Regions from separate parts of the Homo sapiens genome. Here region 1 is linked to region 2. A link means that fine-mapping ties the variant in region 2 to the expression of a gene that starts in the linked region. Tissue or cell type: testis. Region 2 holds a variant in brackets; the other region holds the start of a gene. All regions are shown on one strand. Distances are from middle to middle.

Region 1 (2,756 bases), 72 kb before region 2:
GGGAGTAGGGAGAGGTGGGCCAGAGGGATTACAAAGGAGCATTAGGAAACTTTCGGGGATGATGGAGATGTTTATTATCTTGATTATGGTGGTAGTTTTGAATGTATACTTGTGTCAAAGCTTATCAAATAATGTACTACAATTATGTACAGTTTATTTCAGTTATACATGAATAAAGCTGTTTTACTATTAAAATGTAATTTTGAGGTAGTTTAATAGCATTTAGTGAAGAGAACGAGGGATAGGAAGACAAAAAAGATTATTATAAGGTTTCTGGAATGAGATAATTTCTGTGAAGATATTTAAAGCCCTGGCAATGGATGAGACCACCAAGAGTAGGAATGGAAGAAGGTCTAGGACTGAGTGTGGAGGACAGCTGATATTTACAGGCTGTGTGGAGAAGGAGCAGAGGTCTTACTTCTTTGTGGGGTGTGCCATTGTTGATTTATCTCTTATTGAGAGAGATCATGTTTATTGCTAATATTTTTCATTTCTGAGCTGCAACGAATAACCTTATACATTTTGGAAGTGTGTGTACATGTAATCTGTAAGATAAATTTTTAGATGTAGAATTTTCTGGATCAGAGGGTAGGAGTAGTTGTGATTTTGGTAAATAATGCTAAATTCCTCTTCATAGAAGTTGTACCTATTACATTCCCATCAGCAATATGAAAATGCCTCTTTCCCCACAACCTCATCAGCACAGAAGATTATCAAATTTTTGACCTTTCCTAATTTCACAAGTGAAAATTGGTAGCTCAGTATTATTTTAATTTGCATTCTTTAGCTATGAGTGAGATTAAACATGTTTTATTGGTTAAGAGTCATTGGGAGGATTGTTGTACCTTTAAAAAAATTGAGTTATTGATTTTTTTTAACACGTTATACATGCTTTCTTTATATAAGGAAAAGTAGCCCTTTGCTTCCAATATATCTTGCATATATATTTTCCCAGTTTGCTGTTTGTCTTTGAAATTTGTTTATGGTAGCTTCGGCCTTGTAGAAATGGTTGATTTTCGTATTGTCAAATTTATAAATCTTTTTGTTTATGGTTCTTGAGTTTTGTGTCATAGAGAGGTTTTTCCAACTCTCGAAGAATTCTCTCGAGATTTCTTAGAACTGATTTATAATTTCATTATTTACTCTGAAATCTTTGATTCAATTGTATATTTTCCTGGTGCAAGTGGGAGGGGTTAAGACAATTTTAGTTTTATTTTTAGATGGCTACCTGGTTTCCCAAAATCATTTATAAAATAACTGTCTTCTCACCATTGACTGGAAGATTTCACCTTTATCTTTGTTAAGTAAAAGAGAAGGCTTTATAAATGAGGGTTTTAGAATATATTTGAATGCTGACACTTAATCCCAGTGCAACACTGTTGGGAGTTGCGGCCTTTGGGGTATTTAGGTCATAAGGGCTCCACCTTCATGAATGGATTAATGTTGTTATAAAAGCCCTTTATGAAGGAGTTTGGTCCTCTGTCCCTTCTGTCTTCTGCCATGTGAGGACACAGTGTTTCTCTTCTTTGGATGACACAGTGTTCAAAATGCCATTGTGGAAGCCAAGAGCAGCCCTCACCAGATGCTGGTGCCTTGATCTTGGACTTCTCAGCCTTCAGAATGGTAAGAAATAGATTTCTGTTCTTTATAAGTTCTGTTCTTTATAGGTCTGTGCTATTATACTAGCACAAAATGGACTAAGACAATGAACATGTATGCAGATATGTTTAAATTTCATGGTGGAAAGAAAGATGACTTCTATTTTCCTGTTGTAGTAGAGGGTGTTGATGGATACAAGGCAGCAAAGTCCATTTCTGCTATAACAAAACACCATAGACTGATGGCGTAAACAATCAATATTTGTTGCTCACAGTTCAGAAGGCTGGAAGTGCAAGATCAAGCTGTCAGCAGATTTGGTGTCTGGTGAGAACCTGCTTCCTTGTTCATAGACAGCTGTCTGCTTCCTGTGTCTTCACCTGGCAGGAGGGTTAAGGGAACTCGCGGGAGCCTCTTTCATAAGGGCATGAATCTCATTCTTGAGGGCTCCACACTTACGACCTAATCACCCCCTAAAGTCCCCATCTCTTAATTCTATCACCCGGGGGGTCAGGATCTCAGCATTCAAATTTAAGTTGGGGGACACGAACATTCAGATCATGGCATAAACCAACCGTTCTAATTGCATTATTTTCTCTAGAAATGATCGGCTGCCTCTGTGTGGGCAAAGAAAAGGCCTATCTACCTTGGAAACAAAGCTTTGGAAAACTCATTGCTGGTCTAAAGAAACAGACAATTGAGGCCAGGCGCTGTGGCTCATGCCTATGCTCCCAGCACTTTGGGGAGCCGAGGTGAGAGGATCTCTTGAGCCCAGGAGTTCAAGACCAGCTTGGGTAACATAGTGAGACCCCACGTCTACCAAAAAAACATTAATAAATTAGCCAGGCATGGTGGCTTGTGTCTGTGGTCACAGCTACTCAGGAGGCTGAGGTGGGAGGACTGCTTGAGCCTGGGAGGTCGAGGATACTGTGAACCATGATCGCACCACTGTGCTCCACCCTAGTCAACAGAGCAAAGCCCCATTTAAAAAAAAAAAAGGAAAAAGAAAAGAAAAAGAAAAAATGAAATACACAATTGGACAGTAAAAGAGCCTCTAAAGGGGAAGCAAACAAGAGGTTAATAGGGCATTGATGACTAAGAACCCATTTTGCAATATTCTCTGGAGCTGGCCTTGCATTTAGAATGAATGTGAACCTGAA
Region 2 (2,500 bases):
ACGCATGCTGTATTATGTCTACTTTTGAGAAGTGAAGATTTTCTTTAATTTTTGTAAATCTTACTCATGGCATTTGAAAAAAGATGTGGTATGAGATACGTAATATACGCATACAACCAAGCTTATTAACCATGCCTTTAATTCCCCCATGGCCTTTCCCATCCTTTGATTATATGGCCTGTCAGTTACTGAGTAACATGCAAGGTACTCTGTTAAGTGGTTTACCTCCATTAATCCCCACACGGGCTTACAACAGCCTACTTATTCCCCTCTGGGATACATGTGGGAAACTGAGGCACTGAGAATAAGTCACTTGTCCAGGTTAAAAGCCTAGTAAATAGTACCAGGGATTTATGCATTTAGTTCTCACATCAAAGCCATGTATTACCCATCACACTAAACTCTTTTCATGTTACATTTCATGGTACAAAAAGGACCACAGCTTTCACATCATCTTGGAAGAATATATAAAACTGCTTTCTCTATCCCATTTAATAATTTCTACCTCACATTTTGCCTGATATTGCTTTGCCATTCCTGCTATCATTCCAAAAGGTCACTATGCAGCTCTTGTCGGCATCTGTCCTTGTTCTACGTACATCTTATGCAAACTGTGTTGCTATTTTATATTATCTGTTTCAGCTGTTTAATAGGATAGAGTTTAGTCTATTCAAATTTGTTTTCATTTTATTTTCACCACTTTATGTTCTATGGGCTATTGTTTCATCACTCCCCTGGCCCCACACCCAATTTTGTGGCACTGAAATGTATTTGTGGTTCATTTTGCCACCCTTTCGCCAGCAAGTTTAAAAGTAATAAATCCTGTTTCTATACTATTAATAGTTTTCCTTAAAGAGGTAGTTTTGAAATTATAACTCTCTAAGTGTCAAGCACTAATGAGTATCTACCATTCATCTCCTTCCATATCCCCTTACAAGGTGCTATGGTCTGAATGT[C/T]TGTGTTCCCTTAAATTCATACACTGACGCCTAATGCCCATTGTGACAGTATTAGAAAGTAGGGCCTTTGGGAGGCAATTGGGAGGACCTCCTTTGGGAGGTCATGAAGGCCCTACCCTCATAACTGGTATTACGAAGAGACATCTGAAGAGCTAGTTAGCTCCTTCCACCATGTAAGAACACAGCAAGAAGGCACCATGTATGAACCAGAGAGCAAAAGCTCTCACCACACACCGAAACTGCCGGTGACTTGATCGTGAACTTCCCAGCCTCCAGAACTGTGAGCAATACATTCCTGTTGTTTATAAGCCACCCACTGTAAGGTATTTTTGTTACAGCAGCCCAAACAAACCAAGACACTAGATAAGACTTCTGGCATACTTTTAGCCCTAACTTGATCCATTCAGTTTTGTTAGAATCACCTGAAATTTAAAGAATAATTTGGCTGAGAAGATAATTCTGTGGTTGTTAATTCTTTACCTCTCGAGATTCTGAAAACTTCTTTCCATCTAGCATTTAATGTTGCAAATGAAAAGTAATATCAGTTGATTTTCCCCCCTTTTCATGTCTCCTAATTTTTTCTCCTGTCCGGACAGTTAATTTTCTCTTTGAGATTAATAAATGCCTACATTTGAGTTAAATATTTGTCTCATCCTTAAGGAAGACTTATTAAGGAAAAATTCTATTATTTCTTTGATTATTGTATATCTTTCCTATATAAACTATTCTCCTCTTCTAAATTATTACACAAACATTGAATTTTCCAGAGCTTTCCATGCTTCAGGATTTCCATAATTTCCATTTCTTCACCATCCTGCTGGGATTAATCTTCATTTGGTCTTTTAAATCACTACCTTGGATATTCAACATCTGCTCTACTGGTGAGAATACTCACCATTAAATAAGCACAATCTATAATACTTGTTTTATGGATGTGACTGAACCTCTCTAGAATTTGTCTGAGGCCACTAATTAGAATTCCTTTAAGAACTCTTTCCAAAGCTGAGCATGGTGGTTTGTGTCTGTAATTCCAGCTACCTGGAAGGCTGAGGCAGCAGGAGGACGATCATTTCAGCCCAGGAGTTCGAGACCAGCCTGAGCAACATAGTGAGACCCTGTCTCTAAAAAAGGTTTAAAAGTATTTTTTAAAAAATAGTAATTCTTTCCAGTTGCTTTTTTTTTTCAAGAGATGGGATCTGGCAATGTTGTCGGGGCTGCACTAGAATTCCTGGATTCAAGCAATCCTCCTGCCTCAGCCTCCTGAGGAGCAGAGATTATAGATTTGCGCTGGGCCCAGCTTACTTCCTTGAAGTAACTAAGTTTGACTTTACAGAGTATGCCCTTGCAAGACCAGTAGGCCCTTCTCTTTAAGGCTGTTAATTGTTCTCAATTTTCTGTTGCCTTCCAAGCATCTATTCTTATTTATAAGCAAAGGCTTAGACTGGTAGCTTACATGGAATCTCTCTTAGATGGATTTGGTCTCCCCAGTAGGTAGGCATGAGGGCAATGTGGGCCCACAGAGTTCTGTGGGTGACCTTTGGTCT

Evidence for each region. PIP is the estimated chance that this variant, and not a neighbour inherited with it, causes the effect.
Region 1: it holds the start of GCLC-AS1, and the variant in region 2 is fine-mapped to the expression of GCLC-AS1 in testis (GTEx, PIP above 0.99).

What each region holds. Positions count from the first base shown.
Region 1 is chr6:53,430,017-53,432,772 of GRCh38, forward strand. GCLC-AS1 (GCLC antisense RNA 1) reads left to right here and starts at 1,478. Exons shown (of 5, transcript NR_183318.1): 1 at 1,478-1,623.
Region 2 is chr6:53,502,093-53,504,592 of GRCh38, forward strand. The region is part of intron 12 of GCLC (glutamate-cysteine ligase catalytic subunit); the gene reads right to left. The region is part of intron 3 of GCLC-AS1 (GCLC antisense RNA 1); the gene reads left to right. Among named protein-coding and RNA genes, the nearest start is that of GCLC, 42 kb to the right of the region's middle. The variant C/T (reference allele first, on the strand shown) is at 957.